Regions from separate parts of the Homo sapiens genome. Here region 2 is linked to region 1. Evidence: fine-mapped expression QTL. A gene starts in region 1. The other region holds a variant in brackets. All regions are shown on one strand. Distances are between the middles of the regions. Region 1 holds the start of FOXP1 (forkhead box P1). Region 2 overlaps FOXP1 (forkhead box P1).

Region 1 (16,971 bases):
AAGTGAATCACAAAATTAGCTAAAATCAGAGCATCTGGTAAAATGTGGATGTCCACCTGACTTACAAGTAATAAATAAATATATGTCCAAACATAAAACTCAGAGAAAATGTTTGTCCTAAGCAAATCTATTCTATTGAACATAAACAAGGCCCAATAATCCCACATTCAGATCCATTTTTCCCTCAGTAAATTGTCCTATAACATGCTAGCCTCTGATATCTTCAAACTGTTGAAATCAAACAGAATGACATGGGCTTTCTATTCAATGATCCCATTTCAGCTATTTATCTGAATTAGCAGCAGTTTGAGGAAATACACTCATCACAACATGATTCTGAGTATAGAGAAGTAAATAGTAAACAGAACACTGGAACACAACTGTGTATGTATTCATATTCCTTTTTAAAAAAAAAACTATTTTATTAAAAATACAATTTGGAAGGAAAGTGCAATTAGCTTTGCACAGGCACTGCTGAGATGTTCCCGAACACAGCAGACATATGTAAATATTTCGTGATATCAGTTCCATTTGAGTAGACCTGTCAAGATATTTACAGGGCTTGACAGTACTTCTGTCTTTAATTAAATTTTTGCCCAGATACTTTAATATAATTTAAATAGATTATTAGTTGTCAGAATCGAATATAAATTTTGTTTACGATTTAGTTACTTTAAGTACTCAGACTGAAGGAACTAATTTAACCCTACAACTGAGCAGCTTTAAGCATCAAGGCCAAACCACTAGAAAGCTCCCACTGCCCTTTGCACTCTACCAATAACCTTAAATTATTACAACTGAATTGTAAATTTCATGGCACTAAACTGAGCCCCCCTCCCCTCCTTTTGAAATAAAACAGCTTGGGGAGGGTCATGAGGAAACACCCATTTACACCTGTTCAGGTACTAGGTAGGTTCTCCCTTTCAGGCACTCGTTCTCACAGCGGCTGGCTAGATAGGAAACATTTTTTTCTCACTCTAAGTCCCATAAAATAACTACCGAACAAACACCTGTTGTGTACAAGGCAGGGCATGTATTAAAGACTGGCATCAGGGCATTGCAAAAAGAAAAACAAGCCTTGCAGAGACATCCACAAGCCAATCTGGTCAATAGATTTCACGACTGGGTAAAACAACAGTGCGTGCGAAGAACACAGCTTCTGGCACAACCTTCTTGTGAATGGCAGCTGACTTCTAAACAAGGATTGAAAAATGCCTTAGCACAAACTGACTGTAATTAATAAGAATAATTTATTAAAGAAACAAAGAACACTGTCTAATTGTCTTTCCTGACTGCCATGCACTTTCCCCCATTGTACTTCCTCTTTGCAGAATACCAGCCTCGTAGCCCTAACTGTAAGAACATTATCTATGGGATGCAAAACCAAAACACTTCTAGAAATCAAATATTCCTTACAACATTTATTTTTAGGTTAGCGACACAAGCCAAATCTGCTTAATTTCCATTAAGCACATGGTCACATGCTCATTGAAATAAACTACAAACGTCCCAGGAAAAAAAAAAAAGGAAAAAAACTATCATGCAGAAGATACCCCAAATTTCGCCAGGTTTGCCCGTTTCAGGAACTTGCCTCATCTCAAGGCCTGCTGGCATTCCAGCTTTTGGAGCCTTTATCCTTAATTCATCCAAGTACCGGAGAAGAGAAATATGTTGAAAAATCAGTTTAAGATGGTTCCTTGGATAGCATATGTATAGCAAAGTGGCCTGCAGAGTAGAGTAACAAATGACAAGAAAGATCATTAAAAAAATGCATGGGCCCAAGTGCAAACCTACTTGGCTTGCTGGCTTGTCTCACAAACTCAATGTTTGATCACCTGGTGGGACTAACTACCATCAACTTAAAAAAAAAAAATCCCCTGCAAATAGTAAAAGTATACATTGGCTCAGGTATAAAGTTCACCTGTCTATTCAGCAGATGCCTTTCTTGAGGTTATTTTCTTTAGAAAACAAACCCCTACCTGCTTGAGAGGTTTATATACTCTAGATTCAAAAAAACACATTTAAAAAGAAAAAAAGAAGGCCAATATTGCTGGTATAGCAAAAATGGCATTTACTATGACTGAAATCTATAAAAGAAGTGTGACATCTGACAGGATAAGGAAGAAAGGAAAAGCCCTTAGCAAAAAGAAAAAAAAAATTAAAAACAAAAATACCACCTGTGTAAATCTAGCCATGCTCTGGAAACCCTTTCTCGGTCGTGGAGAAGAAACAGCTCATGCTGAATGCCTTGAAGTTGCAATTAAATTGTAGTAATTTAAGATTATCGGGAGAGCAAAGGGCAGTAGGAGCTCTTCAGAGGGTTTCCCTCCCCACTTAATGCTCTTCAGTCACGGGTTAAATGAGTTTCTTTAATGTAAGTACCTTAAAGTAACAGAATCATAAACAAAATTTATACTATGTTCTGACAGCCTGCAATCTACTTCGGTTTTATTAACGTATACCTAAAATTATTTTTAAAGGACAAAATTCTTGCTATACCCTGTAAATATTCTTGGCATTCCCACTGAAATGTGATAGGTACTGTAACACCTAACCTTGTCTAAATATACATACTTTTTGAGATGTGGAATCTTACAAGATAGTGTTTCAAAACTGAGTTTGAGTCATAAGTAAAACATGAAAATCAAATAAATATGCACAATAAGATTGGCTGCAAAGAGGAAGCTGGGTTCAAAAGAAGTTGTCACATCTGCTATATTCCTTCTCTTTCTTAATTTTGGCACTGGACCCCCTGCAATATAAATATATTTGAAAAATATCACAATTCTTCTGTTAATTTAAACAACTGCTGAAAACAGACATACCCTTCAACAGAGCCTAAGATGCAAATTTACAAGGCCAGGGGTATAGTCTTTAAAAAGGCAAAGAAAAACTCAGTAACAGAAAACCATGCCTAGGCTCAATATTAACTCAGTTAACTTTTGCTATTATAAGTATAAATGGTTTAACTAGAAAATATTTATAGCGTTTTCAAAACATTACATATTGCAGAAAATTGCCTAATAGCATCCATGTGTATGTTTAACCCACATTGCTTAATTATACAATAAAGGTATATCTAGTAAAAACTACAGACTTTGAAACATGTTGTGCACCATGGTTATGAAACTCTGGCTTACAAAAAATATATAAACTGCTTACTATGTGACCGACACTTGTTAATTAAAAATATAATCCTTAAATGACAATTATTTTTATTCTTCTGTATGTGTTTACTTATCCTGTTTCCTACTTTGTTCTACTTAATTTAAAATAACATTTAATTTGGGGATAGTTTATCCCAGAAAAAAAAAAGTGTTACACAGTTTATACTCCACGATTTAAATATAAACACAAAATCTTAGACATCTCCAGCAATATAAACCCCTTATCTGAGACAGTTAATTTGAATAGTTGATGTTTCTTTCATTATACTTTGATAAACCTGTGAAAACAAAATGCTACAGTAATTACTGTTACTACTCCCTTTAAAAATGTAAAGTAGTTAAATTTTCCTAGACAACAAGCAAGGACAAGTTACAGAGAACTTGAATAAAAGTAGCAACGTGGTCATGTTGAATGTCAATCTAAAAAAAGAGGTTGTCTAATCTGGAGACTGCTCTCTCTCGCCTTTTTAAATTCCAAGAGTGGGCTGACACAAAACTTCATCACCAGAGATTTTTTTTTTCTTTTTTTTCTTTTTTCTTTTTTTTTTTTTTTTTGAGCTTCACATCAGATTTAAACTCTCACATACAAAACCTTGGCTTCCCTGACAAGGCAGATCTTCTAAACTCAATGTGAGAAAACGTTATCTAACTCTAGTGTAGGAGTCTAATGTTGGTAAAAAGAATTCCATTGCACAGTTCTTGGTAGCAAGACAGTCTCTGGACGACTTAATATTCCTTTAATACATTTTTGGGTAGCATTCTCCTCATAAAGAAGGATACATTAAAAAAAATAACTTGTTTCGCGACTCGGCATCCATAAGGAACTCAAATGCTGCCCAGAGAGGGGCTGAGTATTTCCTTCCAAGTGAGCCTTCGCTTGCACAACAAAGATTAGCATCTGCAATGGTCCATTTCTGCATAAGTGAACATATAGCCTTGCTGCTTGATCGAATAGTCCAGGGTTCTCCGTGTAGCAGCTCCTGACAACCACCCAGCAGCAGTTCTGTTTGATCTCTCCTGCTTCCTTAATTTGGGTTGTCAAGGTTCAGCAGTTGGAGGCTGTTTACTTTACTTTTCCAAAAAAAAAAAAAAAGTGATTTTTTTTTTCTCCCTCTCTCTCATACAATGACTAATCCAAAGTCTAAGGGGGGTGGGGGATGCAGCCAGTGGCAAGATGTTAAACCTTTTTTTTTCCCTTTGCAGTGAGATTTTAGCTGACACCTTTTGAATGGTAACTAGTTGAGTTCCTTTTTTATATTTTTCTTGCTCTTTAATTGTGAGACGTTTCAAATAGAAAGACAGAGGGGGGAAAAAAACAGTCCAAATTTCTGAAACTGTGAGCTGAGTTTTCTTTTCCTGGACCCAAAGGGATGGGTATTTCCACTTTGAGAATCAAAACTCCAGTGGAATTCTAAAAAAGATTTGATACATTTCTCTCTGGAACAGAAAAATAGCAGGAACTCCTCTTTCTCAATTATGTAGGCTATCCCTGGGTAGAAAACACCTGAAGTCTTACTATTTCTTTAAAAATTCTAGTTTACACATCTCCCTCCAAATTGATTCTTGCTGTGGAAAACGGGGGTGGGGGAAAGGGGATGGAATGGAAAAATTTTGCAGCGATTCTTCAATATATTTTCAGTAGCAGAAAAATTCCTTTAAATATCCTTGAGGTCTTCTCAACTCAGCTATTGTCCAAGCCCTAAACCCTTAAGTCTACGTACAACCAATGGTGAAGTGTAGACGGTTTGAATGTACAGATGCCTTTCAAAGGGAATCCAGAATGCTCCTCCGGCATTCCTGTTTAAAGAGCAGTGACAAAAAAGAAAATGCTAACTTGGAAAATACCTGTGAGCAGACATGAGCGCAATTCCAGCCCCTCAGAAGTGGACTGCATAAGGTCAAATGCAACCAAATGAAATGTTTATATTAATTTCATTATTCTGCCCAAGCCTCACAGATGAGGGCTTGTGGGGTGGGGAGGTAGGGAAGAGGAAGAAATAAGTTTCATTTTGGGTCTTCTGGTAGAGCAAAAAGAAAATGAATTAAGACGAAAGCATAGGATGAGCCCAGACTAAATCAATACACTTTGTAATCAGCCCAGCAAGGGTATTTGGATACAATGACTTGGAAATAATTAATAGTTATAAGAGGGGAGTGGGGTGAGAAGGGGGGCGAGGATGTCACCATATTTTATCGGAGCACTTTACACTCCACGCTAAACTTTGATCTCCAGATTTTCAGATTTAGGAAAGAAAGAGGGGAAAAGGGTGGAGGGGAGGAAGTCCAGTATTTCGAAGCACCTACCGGCCTGAGGATGGGCACATTCCTCGCTCCCGGTGCCTTATCGCTAGGCTCGCGCCACCCCGGCTGGCTCTTTGGGGACGGAGAACCCCTAGTGCCGCCTGGGGCTCTCCGGTGTCCCTGGACCCCGCGCCCGCGGCCGCCTCGACTTACCCGCGGAGTCCGGGGAGGGAGTAGGAGCGCCGCCTTCACGCCCGCGGAGGAGGCGCCGGCAGCACCATGGTCCCCGGCGCCGCTGCCGCTGCCCCCGGCCCGCTCGCTCGCTCGCCGCGCGCTCTCTTCCTCTTACAAACTTTCGGGTTCTGCAGTCGACAAGAAACCGGGGCGACCCTCAGCAAGTCTTCCCCGTGCAGGCTGGGGGGAACTGAAGGGGACGGGACGGGTGAGTAGGCCGAGGGGCCAGGACAGAGAGGGCAGCGGGCTCCGAGGACCCGCGAGTGCGCGTGGAGGGAAGAGAGGATGCGGCTCAGGGAATCCCTGCAAGGATCCAGAGACCGGGAAATCGGCCCGAGCCAAAGTCTCAGCACCTTCCCCAGGATCTCACAAAGTTGCAACAACAAAAAGGAGGGGGGAGGAATAGGGAGAAGGGGGTGGGATGGGGATACGATCACGGGCGCAAGGTTTGGAGTTACAACTGTTTATTTAGTCCTTATTCTCACAGGGGGCGGGAGCTGCGCGGGAATGGGGGGCTGCAGGCAGCGATTTCGAAGCAAACACATGGGAGGGGGGCATGCGACTTTGTTTCCGGGAGCGGAGCTCCCCAGAGCCCGTGTGTGTCACTGCCAGTCTCCCGGGACCAAGGCGGAGCTCACAACAGGTGGGGAGGGGGGCTCGTCGAGGGCCAAAAAGAAGAAGGAATCTAAGTTTCCGAGCGCGACGTTGTCTGAAAAGGAGGGAGGCGGGAGGCGGGGGCGAGGGAAGGCGGAGGCAGCAAATGACCGCGACCCCGCGGCAACTGGCAAACTCCTCGGCTCCCGGCGCCGCCGCCACCGCCGTGGTCCCCACTCGAAGCGCACGCCGCCTCGGCTCGCTGGCTCCAGGGAGTCGTCTCGGCGGGACAGGAATAGAGCGCAGGGAGCTCGGGAGGAAGGCTGCGCGCAAGCGAGGGACGGAGAGCCATCGGCCGCCAGGACAGGGCCGGAGGGACGAGGCGACACGCGCGCGACGCAGGACAAATCGGAGCTTGGGAAATCTCCCCGTCCCCCAAGCTTCAGAGGGGGGTAAAATCAGAAAATGTGTGTGATGGTGGGAGAGAGATCCGGGCGCGGCGACTCCTCGCAGCGCATCCGGCTCCCGCACCCACCCGTGGATCTGGCCACGGCTGTTGCGGACTCGTCTCGGGAAAGCGGAGGCCGAGCGCGCGTAGGGGTGCGTGTCTGGCTGGGGGTGCGCAGGTGCGTGTTTGAATTTTCCGGGCTCCGAGGGGGTGGCGGGAGAGCTTCCTCGCCGCTGACTCTCGGGGTAACGCGCGCGTGGCAGCGGGGAAGTTCCCCAGTGCGGGGCCCAGGGCCAGGCACCACAGTCAGTTTGCTGGGGCCCGCGGGGCAGCTCAAGGGCACCGAGGGGGCACACACCCGCGGGGAAAGAAGGGGAAAAGTTTGCTCCAAGTCTAAACTTTGGGCCTAGGAGGCGCCCGGCGCGCGCCCCCTCCCGCCGCGGCCAGGACCCGGGACCCCGCACCGGCCCCGCGCCCGGGCGGCCACCGGACGCCAACGCCGGACATCGAAAGTTGCGCCAGGCGGCCTGGGCTTATTGATTTCTCTCCCCTAGGCGATCGTGGAGAGCGCAGAGAGAGGCGTGAAGGGGCCTACGGGCAGGCGATCTCGCCTCCTCACAGTCGCCACCGCCCCCGCCCCCATTTGACTTATGCAAATAAACCCAAAGGGTGCGGGCGCCGCCGGAGCTCCCTCCACCCGCGCGCCGGCCCGCAGCCCCCACCCATCCCAGAGCTGGGCCTCGACCCGGGGGGGAGAGGAAGAGAGGGGAGGGCTGGGGGAGATGCACGTGGAGCCTGGAGGTGGAAAGTAGTTGTTTTTTTTTTTCCATTTTTTTTCTCTTTTTCTTTCTTTCTTTTTTTTTTTTTGTGCTGGTTGTTGTTGTTGTTTAAAGTGGCGGAAACAAGACAGGAGGCGGCTTGGGAAAAAGTGGAGCAGAAATGGAAAAATACAAACTCACCCGCTGCAAATGGTCTCTCGGTGCAAACTAAGGTGTTTTCGGGCCTTTCCCCGCGCGCGCCCACTCCCGCCCGCGCGCGCACCCCGCGCACACACTCACTCGCGCACACACGCGCGCACACACGCACTCCCGGGCGAGGGCCGGGCCGCCGCGAGTACAGCGTGCAACCGCCACACAATAAATAACAATAGATTCCTCCGCTCCGGACTAGCTTCCCGGAGCCCAGCCAGCGCCGGTGGCGGCGGCGGCGGCGGCAGAGGCGCGGGCAGCACCGGCCCGGGGGCGCACCCCGGCCCGACCCTCTACCTCCCGCAGGGGTCCCCTCTCCGCTTCACGCACCCCGCTGGGCACTCCAGCGGCCCCCCGAGCGGGAGCGGCTCCCTCTTTGCCGTTCGCCGGGGCGCTGGCGCCCACCCCCCTCCTCCCTCCCCCCTCCCCCCCGACATCCCGGAACAAATAAATAAATAAGGCGCGCGAGAGAGGCCAACACGTCGCGGAGGGAGATGTTGTTATTTTTTGCTGTTGTGCGTCCCTGACGTCACATCCACCTGCTGGGTAAACAACCGGGCTCCCAGAAAAAAAAAATCGCAATTGCCAAAGAATGGGGGGGGGGGTTGGGGGGAGGGATCCAGGGAGGGGGAAGTGAGGGGCGTCCAGGCAGGATTGGAAAGAGGAGAGGGAGGCAGAGCCCCGCGGACCAGAGAGAGGAAGGGAACGCCAGAGCAGTCCCTGGCAACAGAGGGATCTGGCAGGAAAGACCTGGAAAATAAGGGGCAGGGGGGCGGAGGGGGAGATTCCTCAGGAGATGGGAAATGGGGGGCCCATTCAGACAGCGGAAAAAACGAGAAGGGAGAGTGTTAACTAGGGACGAAGATGGGAATGCGATGGCTATTTGCTTGGATTCTGAGCTAAAAATATGAAAGGGAGGGGAGAGGACAGGCTAGAATGTGAGTTTCCTCCAGTTAAAAGTGAAAGTGTTTTGCCATCAGTGACAGTTGAAGGAGAGCGGGGTGGGAGGTGGTGTTTTCAACCCCCTTTCTCCCTCTCTCCCGTCCTCCCTCGGTCTCTCCTCTTTCTTTCTGCACTTTGTCCAATGAAAGAAGGCGAGTTCGGGAGGTGAAAGTTCAGCAGAAGGACAAACCCCTGTTTGCAAGGAAACAGAAACCCCGCCAGCCAGCGAGGGGTTTTCTCCCCTGTTTCTCGGAATCAGGAGAGTGTGAATGTGGGACGAGCTTCTGCCCCCTTGTCAGAGCCACTGCAGGAATGTGCAATCGAGTCCACTTTGGGGGAAGGTGGCTGCATCAGGAACTGTGTTCTTGCCACGACTCCTCTTAGGAAAACGCCTGGGGGCTAGCATGTCAGTCCGTTGTTTAACACAAATTACCTGCTCTCCCAGTGATCAGTCACGTGCAAAAAGCTTTGTCCAATTCTTTGAAAAGGTGAGATTTTTTTTTTTCTTTTTGCGGTTTTTGAAGTTTGGTTGAATTTAGAAATTCGAAGGAATAAACTAAGAGCCTGAATTAAATGTTTTGAAATATACATACATAAAACAAAAGACACTAGTATTTCTTTCACTTTTATCAATACGCATAGAGAAGGAAGCAGAGTATGTGTTTCCAAAACGTGACTTGGAAAGCTGTAAGACCTCTATGTCTTGTTGTTGTTGTTGTTGTTGTTGTTAACAGAAGTAAATTTTTTCAGACCCACCACCACAGAAGTGGCCAGACTCCCAAACCAGCATTTCCAGCTACTGGCTGGCTGGTGTACACCAGGCCAATTCTTTATGAGAATATATTAAAAGTCACCCCTGTGGATTCCTACAAAGTACTTCCCCTTGCGGGGAGGGGAGAGGCTTACTGTCCCTTTGGTCTTGAGACCAGCACAGTTGTAGATAATATCCTGAAAAGGTTATTATTAAATTCTTTCGCGTAATGCCCCTTTACAAATATTGTTAAACATTAATTTACAGAAGAACTTAAATCTTAATTTCAAGGGTGGCATAAGACTATCGCTTTGAAATTGTATCTTTCGCAAGTTAAAAAAAAAAAATAACAAAGCCATTCGCTGATGCTACAGAATAAAAGAAAGGGAGGCTGCTAAGGTAATTTCAGCCTGGTAGAATTCACATTGCATGCATGCTGCATAAAGTTCCATGCTATCCAGATAAGACTATTCACTGAATCTTTTAGACTAGAATCTAGACCAATAAAATGCATTTTAGTTTGTATGGAATGTCCTAGCTTCCTAGAGGCTAGGGTTCGACGTCTTGTTTGTCAAGACATAAAGGGATTAATGACATACCCACTGTGTGCTAGACCACAGAGTGGGCACAGAGGGATGAAAAAATAAAAATTCCTGCCCTTGAGGAGCTCACAGTCTAAGCTGTCAATAATAACATCTAACATTTATTAAATACTATGATCTAGGCACTGAACTAAAAGCTTTATGTCAACTCAGTTAATACTGCCAACAACTCTTTGACATCACTGGAAATTCCATATGCTGAATTCACACGGAATTAAGTGGAAATCTACAAAGTAGCCAGTCTACTGGTTCTGTAGTGGTCAACCTATTAAAAATGGTTTTTAATTTCTAAAGTACTTTATGCCAAATATAACATGTTTATGGTATATGCCTGACTGTAGAATTATAACTCAGGGGAATAACGACTTATTTAAATGTAACAGATCTATTCATAGTCTGTAAAGAACAATTCATCCTCTGATCTTGTTTTTCAGATTAAGCAGTGTGTTTATTAAAAATTATTATCATCGCAATACTAAAAAGATCTTTAGATTGCTGCTAATCTGATTCTGCATTTTAACTGCCTTAAATTCTACATTCACTTGCAAGTGGGGGCCACAGTCAGGTTGGCAACAAGTTTTGCAGACAAAAGGAAATCCTGGTTGTAAATCCCATGATATATTGTACTCAATTTTGTATGATACTGTCTAATGTGCTGTGCTGCCTTATTAAAGAACTCGATGTCCATTTGGTTTACATTAGAGGGAAACTTAACTGCAGCTTAACATATTGTTCATTTTCAACACTGTCACGTTACATTCGTGGGGGGCAGATTTTAATTTCTTTATCAGTAATCAACTGGAAGTTTCTTTTTGTTAAATTAAAGCAAGAAAGGTTTTAAAATAAAGGGCATGGGGGTAGGACGCCACCTTTTGGTGATAAAACAAATAGAAATCCCTTCTGAAAACAGATGTTCCTGACATAATTTTATTTTTAATTACACCAAGGCAAAGGTGCTTGTCCCCATTTCGTTATATTTTAAGTAACAGGAGAAAAAAAAAACCAATGTAAATGCAAAATTAGCAAATTATAGTTAACTGCAGCCAAAATTTTCCCAAACGTATCAGAATATGTTAGTCCCCTGTCACATTACTGTTGATTGTATACACCAAACATGAGCTTCATTCACCAAATACCATGTCACTAAATATATGTACATTTGGGGAACAGAAACTGGAGTGGACATTTACCACCTGACGACGTACCTGAATGCTCTTGTAAGTTTTGAGTTGAACAAAAACTAAAACCACTTAATTTAGTGTTTCTTTAACCACAGTTACTGGTGTCCTGATTTTTGCCATATCTATATGACATAACAGTTCCCGAATAATTAATATACCATACTCATTGGAGGCCACTTATTATGGTAATTGTAGCAAACATTTTCATTTAAATCAACCTTCTTTTAATTTTTTTCTATTACTGCCTTAAATGGGAAATCAGTATCACCCACCATAAATTAAAAACAAGCACAGTAAAAACAAAGTCACTGATTTCTCTTTGAGGGTCAAAACAAAAATTAAAAATGATTTTTGAAAAAAGGAGGGAGAGTGGCAAATGTTGAGAAGGGTTAAGGACAAGAGTATCAATGGAAATTTTTGAATTTTTGTTTTTTCTCTCTCTTTTTTTCTGTTTTTTTTTTTTTTTTTTTTTTAACAACCAGAAGGATTTAAAGTGATCGGAAAGGAATACAGTTCTCAATGTGTGATTCAGTGTTATGCCATCCTAGTGCCAAGGTTCCTACACTTTAAAAAACATGGGCATAACTAAGAATATCGCATTACAGATGAGGAATCTAAGGCCCAGGGATTTCATTTGCCCTCCAAGGCAAAATAAATTTGGTTACTGGTTGGACAAGGATTAGAATCCAGGTGTCCTGACTTTGTGGGTTTCCATCTCACTCTTTCCACTAAAGTGACCAATCCTCAGACTTAAGTGGTTTGTCTAGCTTCTCAGAAACAGCTAACCTACAGACCCCTTTACAGATCTGGGAGAAACTGAGGCCACAGAGGGTCAAGAACAAGTTCAACCCCCTGCTCACCGTCCTTTCTCTCCACCCTCTCTCCATAGATGTGACAGACATCCAGGTGGGGGTCAACACAGCAAAGAAAGAAGGGAGGGTTGAGAAGAGAAAAGTGGATTCAGAGAGGGGAGGTTAGTAAGCGTGGGCAGACCATTCTCTAAATGAAAGCTTAAACTCAGTTGCCTTCCAAGAAGATAAAAATGGCTAATGAAAATCATGTGCTTCACAGTAAGTGGTAAGAGGAGCCCATCCTCTGTGTCCTCATGTCCCTATATGTCCACACCGGAAATCAGCAGGGGATCTCTTGTTTTAAAGTATACAATATTAACAGGCACACTCTGAGACAAAACCACATTTGATAATTTGAGTGGGTGGAAAAGCTAGTCAGGGAACGGGGAATGACCCTAGCTTAAAAAGTGTTTTCCCCCACAACAAAACTTAAGAGGCTCAGAGTTAAATCTAGAAACAATAGTGCTTTTTCTGTTTTTCTAACTGGAGAGTGAGACCTTAGTTACCAAGACTGCACTTGCTGCTTTTTTTTAAAGTATGCAGTTATATAAACATAAATAAATATGGCCTGCAAATATTTTTATGTTTTTCTAAATTGGTGATTGTGAAAAGAGGTTGTGCATGACTGTACTGTATGAACATGGGTCTCAGTGGACTGTAATCCTCATAAACTACAAGGTACGGTGAAGCATTTGGCCAAGTATCATCAATCCAAAAAGCTGTTCTAATGCCCTGAGCATTCCCAGTGCAACGTTGGTACCTTGGAAACATGTAAAAGGAGTATGGGTGGCTCAACCCCATCTGCTACAGGTACTAGAACAATCTACAGCCTTACTATGCAAAATGAGATGTGCTGACCTGCAGAGCACCACCTCCAGGTTATGTCAAAAATGCAGAATGTCAGGCCCTACCTCAGACCTAGTGAATCAAATATCTGTATTTTAAAAAAATCACCCAGCCAAGTCTCACACACATTCAAGTTGGACAAAGGTGATCTATAGTACATGTGGCCCCTTATACAACAGGCTGCATCTCAATATCTTGATAGCCTTAAACTATTTCACAGGTAGTCCTGTAAGTCTGCCATACATGATTCTCCAAACTGGCATCTTTTATAAACTTTGTTGGTTCCTTATTTTTCAACCATTTGCAAAGTTAAGTCACTCAATCACCTATGCAAACCATAATTAATTCCTTTGACATTAATAGTCCGGTGACTTCTCTCTCCTGTTACCCCAAAGAGACTGCTAATTGCCCTCCAATTGTTTACCTTTGTATTGTTTTATGAGAGCTCAGAGAAAGATGGAAGATACTCTCCACCAGGCCAGAAACAAATGCCAGACAGGTTTTGAAAAGGCTGAACACATGCTATGACTACACCTTGTTAGTAGAAGGGCTTTGCTTTCTTTGTTTTGTTTTCTTTTTTTATGGAAGGGATGACGCCTCCATAATTATAGGTGCTGCTGTTTAAAACCCAGAGTGTTTTCCAAACCACTGAGGGGCCACACCTCCAGCAGCCCATGAGCCATCCTGGCTGGATTATCTTTCCAGTTCTCTAAACAGTTCATCAAGCAGTACTAGATTTACATTAAGCATAACGAGAGTAAGGGACCCCATCCAAGTATGGTTTCTTTCTGAATAAACATGAAGGACTCACAGGTAAACCTCACAGCTGAAGGTTAATTTGTATCTGTGAAGTTCTCAGAAAGACTGTAGTAAAGGCCCCTCACCCACCTAACAAGACAGCAGGTTACTTTTGTAACACCCCCCCAAAAAATAATTAAAACCATTGTTTTAATACTATCCTAAGGCAGTGTAATTAAGTCTCTGAGTGAGTAATTGTGTACCTGCATTCAAAATAAGATTTCACATGTAAAGCAAAGTTCTGATTGTAATCTCCGCGAAGTGTCTTGGCCTACATTTAGAATGCACAAGTGCCAGCTCAGCGTTACAATAGGCATTGTTCAGTAGAGCTGGAGACAAACTGTGTTTTATGAGAAGGGAAATGAGGCAGGTCTACCTACCTTCGGGAACAGTAAGGCTGTGTGTTCCAAACTATGGAAGATTTCAGGAGGGACTGAAGGATATTAAGCATGGTGGTATGTTGATGAGACATCTCAGCCATAAGCTTGGGATTTGTTGAGTTTTTTGAAGTAATGGCTATAAAATAGCTATAAAAAGAAGCTTTCTTATTTCCCCAAGATGTCCTTGAACTACTTGTAAAATTTTAAAACTATACAAAGATTAAAAATCTGATTTTCCCAAAGCTAGTATGACTCCTTTGGCCTTGGACTGGAGTTGAAGGTATTCATGGGGTCAGGTTTTACACAAACACACACACACACACACACCCATACACATGATAAATAGATATAGACATAAATCTATATGTGTACATATGTGTAAATTAGTATACATAAGTATACACACATATATTCCCTAGCTCTGTCCACTCAGAATGACTAGAAGCAATGATGATCCAATAGCAATGAGCACACCTAGCACCCAGATCTTGGTTTCTAAATACCTTTCTCCAATACAATAAATCAGGGATCCTTGAGGAGCTAGTTAATTCCAGGGTTGGGGTAGGGAAAATACAAAATAAGCACGGAGCATCTTGTGATGGAGTAAAAACCCAAAACAAAATGGGGGGCGGGGGGCAGCTCTGTAGAGGCTTACTGAAAGGCCACAGGAGGCAACCCCAGAGAGCTCCCAAATGCCCAAAGTTGAGACATCCTGAGCAAGAAAAGAAGTAACAATAGTACTGGATTATAATCCACAGAAGGAAATCTATATGAATCCATACTAACATGTATATATGTACCCACATGTATATGTGTATATATCTACATACATAAACAAATGACACCTCTTCCTTCCGGAAGATGGGTAGGGCTCAGCAATCTGCGTTTTAACAGTTTTTAACAGGTGCTGCTGCTGCCACAGCCTATAGAACTCAAATCAGGCAACTGAAATCTTGGAAGTAAGGAGGCATAGGCATAGGGGCTACAGCAAATTTGAGCACACAGGCCTCAGCTAAAAGTGGCAGGTGCTATTTGCTATTACCAGGAAAGCAAGCACAGGGCGGGAAGAGCTTTTGAGTTTTCAAGGGAGGCAAGAAATCAAAGTCTTTCTCAGTTTTAAAATTCTAAATGGGCAAATCAAAACAGAGCTGCAGCATCTGTCAAGGCCACTGTGCATTTGTACATTTGTCACTCTTTGCAGAAACTAAGTCCCATGTCAGTTTAGGATAACAGGATTTGTTTCTCAAGTGAGCAGGGTGAAAACAATCAGAAGAGATGAAAAGAAACTTAGAGGGTACTCTGACTTCCTCTTAAATTCCTTCCCAGGCATGAGTAAGTCCCCATAAGCCCCCTAAACATCCTGGGGAGGAAGGCTGGCCTACATTCTGAGTCATGGCAGCAAAGACACACATTTTCACAATACCAAAAGGTCAAAACATCACTATTTAGAAGGTGCTGTTATTTAGAAAGATTCTTTATTTCTCCCCCAGAAGAGTGAGTTCAAGGCTGGGTGCAGTGGTTCACACCTGTTATCTCGGCACTTGGGGACGCTGAGGTGGGAGGATCCCTTGAGCCCAGGAGTTTGAGACAACCCCCAGCAACATAGTGAGACCTCATTTCTACCAAAAAATTAAAAATTGGCTGAGAGTGGTGGTGCACACCTATAGTCTCAGCTACTGGGAAGGCTGAGGCAGAAGGATGGCTGGAGCCTGGGAGGTCGAGGCTGCCGTAAGCCATGATCGCACTACTGCTCTCCAGCCTGAGTAACAGAGCAAGACCTTGTCTTAAAAATAAAAATAAAACACAATTTCTTTAATTTAAAAACCTAAAAATTTTACTGGGATATTTTACTCAAGAAATTCATGCATAGGTGACCTCTAGCAACCATTATTATTACCCTCCCTCTGATCTATCCTGAAGAAAGCCAAGGAAAAGAGTTGAGTTGGTCTTTGCCTCATCTCTCTTGTGTCCACCCTTGCATACTCTTTCTGCTCAAATCAGTCCGGAGCCACATATATTAGAGTCCATACTTTCAAGGAACTTGCAGTCTAACTGGCTGAAGATACGTAGTAAATACAAAGAAGGTCATAAGATGAATACCTTAGAGGAAGCAGCAGAGGAGTAAGGAACCACATTGCAGTGGGGGCATGTCAAGACAATACAGCAAAGAGTCATTTGCAGCTGGGTCTTCCTGGAGAGCTAAGATTTTGGCACTTGGGGCTAGGATAGCCAAAGAGCACTGCAAGAGAAAGTGCAGCAGCAGCAATGATATGGAATCTACAATGCTCAGGACTGGTTCACAAACTGCTGCGCATTGGAATCAGCTGGAGGGCTTTACAAAGGTTGGCTCCCAGGCCCAGACACTGTGATTTAATTGACCCAGAGTATGATCTGGGCATCAGGACTTTTAAAAGCTTCCCAGGTGATTCTAATGTGCAGTGAAGTTTGGGAACCCTTGATCTGGGTGAGTCTGAGGACAGCAGTGCACAGTTAGCTCGGCCTGTGTGAGGGGTCTTGGAGCCCTAAGTTACCCTAAACATTGTCCTTCCATAGTGACCAGTATCCTTTCTTTGAGAAAACCAGTCAATTAGGTGAATTCCCCAGAAGGGGCTAGGCTGGCCTTCTTCTTCAGTGTGGCCCTCAGATACAGGCCTCAGCATCACCTGGATGGAGGGCGTCATTAGTATCAGGGCTCCAGAAAAAAAGAATTGATTAATTTCTTGGGATCCAGGAGCCCATTTCAAGCCTGCTAAATCAGCATTGGTGAGGGGCCTGGAAGTTGGCATTTTGAGAAGCTCACCATATAGTTTGTTATGCTGTATGTTGAGGTTTGGAATCCTTCTATGGAGATTTCCAATTGCCACCTACTCTGAGACTGTCTCCATTTTAAAAGGGAAGCCTTAAAAAGGGCAAGACATAAAAGAAACAAATCAAGACAGCTAAGCATTGTCAAAGATTCCTAGAAGTC
Region 2 (13,537 bases), 600 kb before region 1:
ACATTTGGCATGTCATACACTTGATAGGACAATTTTCTATGCATATAAACTGCAGTCTAGTCTAAATAAGCAGTTTTTTTTTTTCTTTTTTTGAAACTAGGTCTTGCTCTGTTGCCTGACTGCAGTGCAGTGGTTCAATTATGGCTCACTGAAGCCTTGTATTCCTGGGCTCAAGCGAGTCTCCTGCCTTAGCCTCCTGAGTAGTTGGGACTAGAGACATGTGTCACCACACCCAGCTAATTTTAAAAATTTTTTGTAGAGATGGGGTCTTGCTATGTTGCCCAGGCTGATCTTGAACTCCTGGGCTCAAGTGATCCTCCAGCCTCCTGAAGTGCCGGGATCACAGGCAGGAGCCACTGCATTTGGCTGCATTTTAAAAAAATATATTGCCCAAAGGCATACAATAGAAGGTCTACTGTTACTTACTGGAACAAAATTGAGGTGGTATAAATAAACGGACAGAGCCAATTTCCTTTAAAAATCCAGACAGGGCATGACACATGTAAGAGATATAACTTGAAAAGAAGTCAACATTGCTCCTAATCCTAATCACTGCTTGATGCTTTAAAATAAGTATCAAAATGTACAGAAATGAAAGGTCTTAAAGCTACTTTTGACAAAATAATTTCTGTAGATCAGGTTGAGCAATATAACCATGTGAGTAAAGACACAAAGCCAAAACTTCAGTTCTGTTTTCCAAAACTGCACATCTAAGCAGAAAGCGACGAGAAGTCAAGAGTTTTCAAAAAAAAGATGTGTAAGCTCTTTTCAGTCATAACCTTAACTGGGCATTTCATCTTTTGTCTAAGATCATGGTACAAACAAGGACACGTACAGAAAATTATACGTATTTATGAGTCACTATTTCATCTAAGGCTGTTTATATTAATGACACTTTTTCCTGCAGTTTGCAAAACGAAAAAGTGCAATCTGAAGATCTAAGCTTAAATATTATATTCACAACTGGTAATTATTTTTAAATTTCATCATTTCTATTTATAAAAGGCAATCTGAAGAAAATGTCTGCCTCATGCTTCGACTTCCTAAATTTTTTAAAGCATTCATGGCTAAAGATCCTTTCATATTTTATCTTCCAAGGCAGGCTGAGGCAAAGAGGGTAAGATTTTGAACATAGGTTCCCTTCAGTGCCCATGTGTCTTAATGGAAATGAAAGGATAATTTGGGCCATAATGGATATTCACAGCTCTGTAAAGTTGATGAATTAATTCTATGGTTATATTCGTTTTCTTTTAAAATGCTAATTTATCAGGAACTTAACAGAGGAAATGTATTTTTCTGTCTTTTGCTTTGGTTTTTCTCCGGTATAAAATTAAGGAATTAGCAAGGAAGGCATTTATTTCAGGCGAAGGAAGTTTTCCTTGTGTCCTATAACACATCCTTATCATATTTAGATTAATGGCATGTAAAAATAGCCTCAAATGTTTGTTATCACATGTCTCTAAATGTTTTGGATTTCAGGGATTACAAGAATTCCAGGTAGTAAAAAATGCAAAAATACAAATGACAGAGTGTACCTGTCCCCTTCTATAAGCAAGAATATTAGACACCAAGAAATCAAAAATGGGAAAGCCCAAAAATATGTGAGGGATCAATCTAATATAAGGGAGTAAATACCAGTGGAATCTTTGAGCCAGCTGCTGACCTGGGAATGAGGTAAGCCATATATGACCCCAAGCACTACTGGGGGCATCCAATAAAGAGCTATGCAATTTGACTTGTTTTTACAGCAAATAGTATTATAATGAATATAATGAAGTTCGAAATCTACTTTTCTTCCTTAGTATATCTATGAGGGACAATCTCCTTTTTTTTTTTTTTTTTTGAGACAGGGTCTTGCTCTGTTGCCCAGGCTGGAGTGCAGTGGCATGAACAGGGCTCACTGCAGCCTCAACCTCCTTGCCTCAAGCAATCGTCCCACCTCTGCCTCTGGAGTAGCTGTTGACCACAGGTGCATGCCACCATGCCTGGCTAATTCATTGAATTTTTTTTGTAGAGACAGGGTCTCGCTACGTTGCCCAGGCTGGTCTCTAACTCCTGAGCTCAAGTGATCCTCTTGCCTTAGCCTCCCAAAGTGCTGGGATTATAGGCATGAGCCACTGTGCCTGGCCGACAATCTCTTGACTTAAAACCAAAAAAAGAAAAACAAAAACCCCTGCCCCTTAATAATACATTGTGTTCTCCATTAATAACTCCTACAAACAGTGCTAGTGCTTGGATTGCACAGCTTTCTCTACTAATTGGGTTAATGAGCTATTTATCCAACCATTGAAGGCTGTGTCAAGTTTGGTCATTTCTCCAGGTTCCATCTCTGGAGATAGATCGCTGGAGATACATCTCTGCAAATATCGGCTGTGGCTGAAGACCTAACGGCATGAGGTTTGTGCAAGTAATATGGCAACCTCCACTTCTGGGCGACGGTGTTGTCTCCTTTTCTCTACATATTCCAACCAGAGAGAGATCACTTTACTGGCTGGCCCCTCCACACTGCTGATGCTGGTATAATGGGAGTCTTCCATCAGAGCATTTCAACCACAATGGCACTATTTTCCCAATCAAATACACCTAGAGATTGGACACTTTAAGAGTATCAAAACAATATAAATGTAGCTTCCTTATAGCACAACTGCATTTTATCAACAACAAACTGTTCTATGAACGTCAAGATCCAAGAATAAACAGGCCTGAGAAAGCTTACCTTCCACGTGGCCGCGTTGCGTCGGAAGTAAGCAAACATTCGTGTGAACCAGTTATAGATCTCATTTAGTGTTAGCTGCTTTTCTGGAGATTCGAGAATGGCCTGTGAAGCAGAATGTAACAGAAGATAATTTATGACCAAATCAGCAGAGTCGTCATTCCACAGTTTCTCGAAAATATAAAATCACTGTGATTCAGAGCTAAATCCTGAGAAAGGTTTTACAAAATGATCTAAGATTAATGGTTGTATTTAACAGTTCAATAGCAAAATTCAAAATGGAATTATCTAATTGTTTTGAGTTTTTATTTCTGTTTCCGTACAGAAATATTAATTTATTAGTCATTCATAAAGCAGAATCAAAGAGAAATGCAAAACATTTCACTAGCTGATTAAAGCTCAGTAATTATTTAGAGCTCAGATTAATTCTAGGGATCAGAGATTACTGTAGCTTGTGATAATTGACTTGCCATCTTTAAACAGGCTCATTTTCACTGTTGTGTGAAATGAATTTCCTAATAATCACATCGTATTGTAATACTTAATCAAAAGCAATTATGTTATATATTGCAGTTTTAAAAAACCTTATAGAAAAGGTTTCAGCATGCTTGCATACTAAACGGTTTTTAAATCTACTTCATCAATATATATCCATGTACACATATACCTTCTGACAGAATTTCATATACTGTGTTATTTACTTACCTGCCTAATTAAAGATGCATATGTAAATGGTGGTCTAACTTCTGCGTTCTTATAAAATTCTTGGTTCTGCGCAATATCTGCTGAATAAGAATCATTGTCCTATTAATTATCACTTTTTCAAAAGGGGCTGGTCTACAAGAATTGCAGATTACAACTCTACGTGAGGCAAAAGGTGGAGTATCTACCTGACGAAATGGGCACGTTGTATTTGTCTGAGTACCGCCTGCGGATGGGTCCCACCGTGTGCATGCTGGTGGTTGTGATGACAGAGGGGCCTTGGGTGACGGGAGTCAGGGGGGCGGTTGGGGTCGTTGGAGTATGAGGTAAGCTCTGTGGAGAAGCCTCCGATGCGGACTTGGAGAGAGTGACACTTGATACCAGATTCAACTGCAAGGAAAAAAACAACGTCTTAGAAGACCTTCAGAAAACCAGAGCAACCCAGGAACCACATCTAGCAGGAGTAACACAGAGGATGCGTGGGCACCGTTTCTTCCTCTATGTAGATGGTATGTTTACCATGAACCGAAACACACGGTGAGTCCTGCGTGAATTCACTTAGGATGCAGTGTAAGATATCTCTGGCAGCGGTCTCTTTTCCAAAGGCTGCTACATGGGTGTTTACAGGCTCAAAAAGGGGTTACCTACCTGAGGGAGTGTGAGAAACCCTGAGTCAAGACATTTATTTCATTGTGATGTCTCACCTATAGGCTTTGATCGCCCATCAGGCCTTGTCAACCTCAAAGAGGGAGAGAAGTCCTTAGCAATACCAGTGAAGCTGAGTATTTTAGGTGACACCAGTTGGGATACGCTGGTGTAGATCTGAAGAAGTGTCCAGCAGAATTTCTGCAATATGCTAGCACAACCAAAGAGCTGTTTTTACTTGATTTTTATTAAAATTAAACTTTAATAAATGTAAATGGAAAGAGCCCCATGTGGCTAGTAGCTACCATACTAGACAGCCCAGGAAGAGCCTACTGAGCTCCCTCATGCAGCTTCGTGGATGACGAGAACTCCTGCAAATATGTGTGGCCTATTTA[T/G]TACTCATATTAAACACAATGGGCCTGACCCCACCAGCTGTCATTTGTTTCTATCAATCAATCAATCAGTTGGCAGAAAATAATCCTTAACAGCATTATGAATAACCTTTATTAAATCTATCAAATACAGGCTTGGGATCTGTTAATTTTTTTTATTGTGACATTCTTTTACAGAATACGGGAGATCTGCAACTGAGGTTTTTGATTTTTTTCCTTCAAGTTTTGAATGTTCTATAAAATGGGAAATAATCTGCTTCAAGTTAGGAAATGAATATTACTTATTTGAAGTAGAAGAGAATAAAATAGGCCGGGCATGGTGGCTCACACCTGTAATCCCAGCACCTTGGGAGGCTGAGGTGGGAGGATCTCTTGAGGCCAGGAGTTTGAAACCAGGCTGGACAACATGGTGAAACTCTGTCTCCATTAACGCACACACATACACACACACACAAATTAGCCATGTGTGGTGGCACATGCCTGTAGTCCCAGCTACCTAGGAGGCTGAGGTGGGAAGATAGCTTGAGTCTGGGAGGCAGAGGTTGCAGTGAGCTGAGATCACCACTGCATTCCAGCCTGGGTGATAGAGTGAGACTCTACCTCAAAAAAAAAAAAAAAAAAAAAAAAAAAAAAAAAAAAAAAAAGAAAAAAATAAATTAATGAGCACTGTTTCAATTTATCTTTCTTATCTTCACCTTAAAGTACTGTTCTTACAAATACTAAAAGGCATAACCCTTCCCCAAAATTTGTTGCAACAGAAATATTATTTTACGTCTGGCAATGCTGAAGAATTTGGTTGTTTTCAGCGTATGTATTACTGTTTATGTGCTGTCTCAGATACACAGACCCACCCTAAAATCCAATAAACTTCAGCAAAGTAGGCTTACTTGGTAATATTTTCTCAAACCAGATTTCAAATCACTTACCATAGTAAGTCTATTTCACCAAGTCTAATTCACCATTGCTATAGTCAGTCTTAAGTACAAGGCAGTATTTGTGGAAGGTATTAAAAATGAGATTCCTCTGAGATCATAATCAAAGAACTTATTAAAAGAGAGTTCCAATATGTTGGGAAGACTCGACCTTTACTCACACTCTAGTTAAAAAAAAAAAAAAAGGGAGGGGGGCCTGAGAATCCTCTCTAATATGTTTCAGGAGAGTTTCATAAAAAAGCAATGAACCTGAAGAAAAGAAAGATCAAATATCATGAAGAAATACTAATGGAAAAATGTAAACATGGCGCTGGAAACAGAATGTTGTGAGCTTTGAGTTGTGCTTTCCTTTTTATTTTCAGCGTAGAATGTTGTCTCGGTGAGCAAGAGACAATGCCTGCGAAGAGCAAGCTCTGGAGATGGCACTGCCCTTACAAATGCCCCAGCAAGCTGAGCAGATGCCATGAGCGGGTTTTTCTCTATAATGTTGGAAACCTGGCTTTCTGACACACATTTGCAAACTAAGTGTGAACAGTTCAGAGTAGCAGCCGCAGGATGGGGCAGAGCTGAGAAGCCAAGGGGGGAAGAGTTGGGGCTGACCTCTTCTTCACCTCGGGCCTTAATCACTGACCAAGTCCAGGAACAGTATGTATAAGCATCAGCCCAAGCAAAGGGTCAAGGAAATTAGTGCATGAAAGGCTAATGCTCATAAATATACAGCTTTTATAATTCAGACGCTGCTAAGCCTAAGAATCTCAGAGCGCTTTGGAAAGTCATGGGTAACATTTGTAAAAATCATGTTTTAAAACCACCTGCCACTGTGTGGTCTCCTTCAATTCTCATACCACCACTAATATCTGAGATGTTATTACTCATACTTTACAGATAAGCAAACTGAGGCTTGGAGAGATTAAATAATTTGCCCATATTCCCAACCCAGACCCAAGGTCAAACCACACACTTGTATGATTCTAGATCCTTTGTATAATCATCTTATGCCTAGTTAATAGCAAAAATGAACACTAACCAGTTTCATTTTTCTGTATGCTCATTTTTGGAAAAGATTCCGTGCAGAGCATTTTATCCCTGCTTATGCATGACAATCAACACGTGTAACTGAGCAAATATAAGGCAGTTACTCCTACAATGACAAAAACAGGAAGAAAACAGCTAATTGCTGCCCTTGAAGCGCTTACCATCAAACACATACGTCAGTCAAAGGGCAAAGGTACACAGTAACCACAAAGCAGTTCTGAGGACTGACTATACTTCTCGGCTTCTCTTTTCAGTTTAAGAACTTTTCCCTAAACACTGTGGCTTTCTGAAAGATGCAATGAAAATTACAAACACAAATGTCCTTCATGCCTGCTCCCTTTCAGTTTTGGGAGGAAGATCACCAAGTTAACTGAGTTCCAGTTTCATTGTCAGAAATCAAAACTCATTCAGCAAGTGCAAGCCCATCTTTTTGGGTGTTCACAGCTACGAAGAATAGACAAATCCCACAGTAAAATGTCATCAAAATGCCGAAAGGATGTGAGCCTTGTAGCTATTACCAAGATCGCACCACTAGGACTCTTTCTACCAAAAAAAAAAAAAAAAAAAAAAAAAAAGCAACAGCGAAAAATAAAATCCCTCCAAGTTAGCACAATCCACAAAGGAAGAGATGAAGGTAGAATTTTCTGGAGGCTTTTGAACATTAGCAAGTGGGAATAAATACTGAGCCAGAAGAGAGCAGAGAGGGGGCTTACCAGGCTTGACAAATGACACCGTGATTCACACCCACTGCTGGGCTGTCTCTAATAAGCCACAGAGGAAGCAGCCAATCTCAGCTAATTACCAGATAAAAATGTATTGTAAGGACTCTAATTAGGAGACGCGGATGGAGGTGATCTAATGATTAAATGCTGCATTCGACTGACCCCACCATCAATGTGCAGTGGTGCAAGATGTCACTGGAATATTTTGTAGAAACAGTAATTTTATTTCGAGGAGGGGAGGCAGTAATATTTGTAATGATGGCTATGAGGTAAACTAATTAAAAGACAGTTCCTAGAGGAAGAGGGTGGCTGAGAGCAGCTGTGGCCATTCCAAAACCAAGTGCCAAGTCTCAATAGAGGAGCTGCAGTCAAGTGGAAAATTTCTGCCTGACCTCTGCCCTTGCTATTAATTTGCAGGAAAACTAATGACACATATACATATTCCCACAAAATTGTTCTAATTGCTAATTTGCCAAAGGAGCCCAGATTCCAAATTAAACATGACTAGCCCGTGAGGGAAGGAAGAAGAAAAAGCTGTACACTCCAAACACAGGGTGCTTTGCCACACAAAATCATTTGAAGGCTGAACCAACAAGTTAATGAAATGTCAACCTTGTCAACTGGTACAGAAGTTTCTTAACTTTTAAACTTCTGTTTGATGATCACATGCTTGTCTGGAGGAGAAACCATCTTCGAAAGGGAAGGTTGAGAGAGAAAGAATGGAGAAGAAAGACTCAAAGCAGGCTCTGTGTTCAAACCAAACCTGCTCTCTTAATTAAGGCCTCTTTGAAAAAAGAGTGCCCCCCCAAAAAAAATTAATTACAGACTTAGAACAGAAGAGCAAATGGGGAATGGTGTGTGTTTTTGCTGTAATCTTGAAATATTCATCTTAATTGTAAACTATTAAATCTTAATGTAATCATCAATTAGAAATGAAAGCATATGTGCTTTGTGTTTCTGATTGCAGTTCAGGTTTTAAAAGATAATTTTTTCTGGGGCATGGGGCAGGAAGGGAATGGACTGGGAGGGTTTCTTTTCCTGATGGAAAGCCTATTTTTCTTATTGTGTTCCTTTTCTATTTAAAAGAAGTTGCTATGTTTAGAAAAGTCAGTAACTCTGATATTTTCTACATGGCAAGTTTCCATCATGTGATGATTTCAGCAAAGATAATCTCTTTGAAACTCTGGCCAAAAGTTAAATTCTTATGTCATTTAAAATTGCTGTAGGGTTTTATTTTTTAAATTTATTTGTACTCTCAGGCATCAGCTTTTCTTTTAGCCATCGAAACTATTCAAACTTGGTTGGCTACCCACTATTCTGCTTAGTCCCTTTTTTTTTTTAATTAATTAATCTTTCTTTAGTTTTTAACAGTAATCTCCCCTCCTGTTTAAAGATGATGAGTCACTCACATTAAAAAAATAAACTGCTGATGTAAACCCCTGACAGAAACAGACTTGTAAGTATTCCCATAAGAACTCATTTTTATTTTTGTTTGTGCTCTTGCCTCACATGAAAACAGATTCTGAGAACAAAAGACAAACCTGAAACCCAAACACCAAGGGACACAACTGCGTAGTAGGGACTTTCGGGCTCACAGAACTTGTTTTTCTGCTCTTGTTTTACTGGCCTGAGCCAGCTCAAGTCCTGCTTTAACTGCATGGCAGTGTCATTTCTGGGCATGAATCACTGAGTTCAGAGACGGCCTTTCTGAGGCTGGAGGGACGTTACCAGGCCGTGCGGAGGGCAGGACAATGGGTGGCAGCCTTTGTTACAAGCCTTTCCTTTCCTTTCCTTTACCATCTCAGCCTGGCCCTGTTTTAGAGAAGCGAACTCGTGGAAGGTTATGACTTACTTAGAAGGTGGTGGTACTGGCAGGGATACTAAAAGCAAAAACAAAAAAATTCTAGTTGAAAGGTTGGTGGGGGTGGGGCACTTAATGAAAAACAGTATATAAAACAGCTTTTGTGTATTGTGCCTAAGAATCCCTTTTTATGACTGCTTAATATTATTTCTCCAACTCTAAAGCAAGGACCCAGGCAGCCCAAATGATCCTTGAAGAGTTAAAAGACCCTTTCTTTTCGGGGGGGCACTTTGTTTTTATAGGAGCTAAAAACTCTTTCAAAACAGTCCTAATGGCTATGGTTAGAGGAAAAGAAAATGTATAAAAATGAAAATCTAATACTATATTTCATTACAAATATCCAAGTTCCTGTAAGTGCTTTATAAGATTTTCGTCAAGAAGAATATACCACCTACACTGTAATTACGTGCCCACCAAATCTAAAAGAATGTGGTTTCTCCAGGAGCAGAAGTTGTTCTCTGATGTGCAGGAATACCCTAAAGCAAAGCGTTCTTCTCATGTACTCAGTATTATAAAATACGATTTACAGTGTTTTCCTGACATAATGACAGAGTGTGAAAAGTCTTTTTAAGAAATCCGTAGTAATTTAATAAAGTCATCATATCACAGACATGTTTCTTTTTGTTTTTGTTTTGTCCTCTTAGTTTTTCACTCCCTCCCCCAAATGAAGTATCTTGGCAAATTCTCCACAGAGTAAGCACGGAGAAATTAACCTCCAAGCAAGACATTTGGGTGTTTACTTTGAGAATGTTTACTGAGTCTGGAACAAAAGAATATCAATCATTTTCATTAGGGCAGTTTACTATTGTTTGTTTTTGCTTTTCTTTCCATAGAAAAGAATAGAATCTTTTAAAATAACAAGAAATGTGGCCATTCTAAATGTAAGAACTGCTTTTCGGCTCTATGTACCTGAGAGCTAGAGCTTAGGGCTGCTCTGGTCAACTTACACATACTACATACGTCCACGCAGGGTCCAGTCTTTATAAAATTAAAAGTTTGAAAAGCTTGTCTTAACTGATGTTGGCTATTCCTTTTCTTCCTCTACACTGATACTCACCAATCAGAGGGACCGATCTGGGCACCCACTCTTAACCTAAGGAAAGGTTCACAAGGCTGACCTCTTACCATTTCTTCCTGCTCATCTTGTAGGTTTCAGCTTAGACATCATTTCTCCCAGCAATCTCCCCTGACTTTACCATTCTGGGTCAGCTGTTCTACTTACAGGTAGTGCAATTCACGGAAAGTGAGACTGTGTGAGTATGTATGTAGTTTATCTGTTATTTCTTTTACCAGACTCTGAACACCTCCATGGCAGGGATGGGCCTTGCTCATGTGACTGACTACTTGTCACGTATGTCACATGCTCAAGAAATATTTGTTGATGGAATAGTTTGATTTTAAATGCAGAAATTCCCTTTCCATAACCAACCTGCACCTTGAGTCTTTGGTTTTGTTCTGAAAGGAAGATTTTACTTAGGTTTAAAGAGATGTGATAGCAAGCAGGAAGAAAGGCCGTCGAAGGAGTCTGAGGGATGGGAAGCCCGTGAGCTCCTGCCCCAGTTCACCCATAAGCTTTCTTCCTCAGATCCATGTCCAAAAACTTGGGCACCTTCCCGAGATGAGCGTATCCTCTAACTATCCAAATCTGATGAGTCCCACAATAAGATCCAGAAAATGCGTCTATGAGCTGATGTAAAAACAATCTAAGAACGTTTTAGCAGTTTCTTTGATGCAATGAAATGAGGACTGGTTGGATGATTGGATACAGCAAATGACACTTAACACCCAAATGGCATTTAGTGAAAAGCAACATTTACAGCAAAGCATTCTATCACTTAGTGACTAAGAATTTTAAAATAAACACGAGGTTTCTTCTACACAGAAATGGAAAAAAGAAAAAGCTTCATGAACTTACTGGCAAGGTTGTAACATGAAAGTCCCCATCTATGGTTAGATTTGAATCCTGGTGACTGCCTGTTTCAAATTAAAGATTCTAGAAGGATACTCATTCAAACAAACGCCATGCATTCTATTATTTAGGGCGGAATAAATTAATTACAGACTGCAGGGAATATTTTGCACATGAGAATCAGTCACCAGATAGCTCTGGGCCCTTAAAGTTGAAAGCATCAAGGGTTTGCTGTATGTGTGTGCCCTTTTTTTTTTCTTTTTGGCAAAGAAGTGAAAATTTATGCAAAACATTACACGTCTACCTTTTATAATTAATTTCCCAATGCCTCACCTATACATATTTTAATAATTCCTGATTTATAAGATGGTATCTTTAATAAAATTTTCTATTTTCCAATAAATGAAAAGAAGGCAGGTTCACTCCGACAACAGAGTGTCACACAATATCTGCTTGTCAGGCACCAATTTTTACTTCTTACATGTAAGTTAAAGGATAAGGAATTTATAATGCTGCCTGTGAAGGGAACCACTTTTCATACACAAATGTGATCTTTTTTTTTTTCAAAGGGTAATACAACAGTACATTTACATAAACTAATCCAAACAATCTATGTATTTGACAATGGCAAACCTCACACAGACGGCCTATTGTTGGTTTACATCTTGGAGTTCTTTATATTGGCTTGTAGCGCTGCTCTAGCTGTCAAAGGTTTGACTTGGACTCTAAATAAATGGTTATAGAAGTGCTGTGCAGCGATATTGGACTTCTTTGCAAAAGAAAACCTGCTGTGTATGAATTCAAAAGCTATTAATTTTTCAGTCAAAAATATTCGTGCCGATTTCTTCTAATAAAGAAATACTGTGCTGAGCTACTAAGAGATAATGTTGACTAGTGGTAGAGAATTTTCAATAGAGCAGTTAAAAATAAATTTAGTAGGAGGTCCCCTTCAAAGTTACAATTTTCTAGAAAGTAAAACATTTTTTTTTAATACTAATCAAGACAAACCTTCCATCCCTGTTCACTTCCCCCCATGCTTTTCCCTGTTTACCAGCTGCTTAACACTGGTCCACGTGAAGAATCCCAATGGTCCTTTTGTGGCCCACAGGGGCTTACACACATGGTGCTCTCTGCCAACACCCAGCCCGGTCACTCGCCAAGCGCCCTACGGGGTTTTGTAGTTCCTTATCTTTAATTGTATCCTTCCTCTTCCCAAGAAGCCCCAAGATCCAGGCCTACAGTGCTGGGTCCAACCATTATCCTATCACTGTTTTTAATCCGTGGAGGAAGACAGAGATAATCTCATTCTCTCGCTTGCTGCTAGGTGCAAAGATTTGAACCCTTCAATCTGGGAAAACCATTTCACTAAAGCCATCTGAAGACTTTCAAAAAGTTCCAAGGCAGTGAATGCCCTGTGCAATTGGCTATGCTTCTTCGAGATGACTTCAGCCAAGTTGTCTCAGAGGCTCACCATTTTGCTTAGCTGGGTTCTAGAAGGAGGGGTTGCTAGAAATAGCACAGCTGACTACTGATGCCACAACAGTGAATGACCTGGTTCTTTTTTTTCCTTTCTTTTTGGTAGCCTACACATCTAGTCCTATAGCCATTTACTGTAAAATAATACACGGAAACTAAGGACTCCTTCCTGGTAAAAATGGATGCACGAAGTGTTTAATAATTTTATGTCCTTTATCTCAGTAATGTGTTCTGTTTCAGACATTAATTTTGCCTGCCAACTGCATCTTGGCAGGCTACCATATTTGCTGGGTTAATAGTCTGACTCCGTTTTATTTCTATCACCATAAATCATACATATATGGGTGTATGTTTGCTTTATTTATAGAAAAAAATCAGTCAAAACAGATAAACCAATACTTTGCCATTACGCTGCATCATTGCATATTGATTAAAATCGCTGGTACTAACTATAGATTGTCAACGCTCAATTAATTTTCACACAGTGACTCCAAGCAAAATCAAATAAAGGCAGTGTACCTTTAAATTTTACAAATCTTAAAATCAAGAAGCAAAGCACTGTCTCCATTTTGAATAATCAGTTAAAGCTACTAGGAGAATTTTAGAAACGTAAGAGGAATATGACCGTTAAAGAGATCGATTTATTACAAGGAAGGAGGTCCAAGACAAACTTTTAGGTTCAGACACGATCCTTCTGCTTCGGTATTAACAGCCTGTGCTGGGATGACACCCTTCAAGGTCCAGTAAAAGGGAATAAGGCAAGAAAGAGGAGATTCTTACAAATTAAATGTAATTTCAGTATACTGTGTTTGGTCTCCTAACTGTGAAGGAATAATTTTCATTTCAAACTCCTTAGTAACCATTAGAGCCTCTCCATAATTTAGCCTCTGACTATTCCAACACTAGGTTTCCTATGTCTTTCCTCTGTTAAGAGTTAGACTGGACTACTACTCCCTGCTCTTTTTCCTACACACCACTGTCTCTCAGCTTACCCGAGCTGAAATGCCTCTTTGCTTTGCTGTCATGGTTTAGCTGTCTTCTCTGCGTTCCTACCATTCAGAAAGATTTTCTTTTTCCAGGGAGCTCTCATAATGTATTTCAGTACCTTGCTTGGGCACCAATCATTCTGCCTTTAAAGAAGAGCTGGGTG

What was found. PIP is the estimated chance that this variant, and not a neighbour inherited with it, causes the effect.
Region 2: its variant is fine-mapped to the expression of FOXP1 in whole blood (TOPMed, PIP above 0.99).

What each region holds. Positions count from the first base shown.
Region 1 is chr3:71,575,928-71,592,898 of GRCh38, forward strand. It overlaps FOXP1 (forkhead box P1), which reads right to left and starts at 7,801. Exons shown (of 21, transcript NM_001349338.3): 1 at 7,644-7,801; 2 at 5,622-5,770. FOXP1-DT (FOXP1 divergent transcript) reads left to right here and starts at 9,016. Exons shown (of 1, transcript NR_182289.1): 1 at 9,016-11,482. RefSeq lists a silencer at 7,674-7,913 and an enhancer at 7,991-8,285.
Region 2 is chr3:70,974,225-70,987,761 of GRCh38, forward strand. FOXP1 (forkhead box P1) reads right to left here. Exons shown (of 21, transcript NM_001349338.3): 15 at 3,604-3,805; 16 at 3,419-3,498; 17 at 2,717-2,818. Among named protein-coding and RNA genes, the nearest start is that of FOXP1-AS1, 310 kb to the right of the region's middle. RefSeq lists enhancers at 1,822-3,021, 11,014-12,055. The variant T/G (reference allele first, on the strand shown) is at 4,456.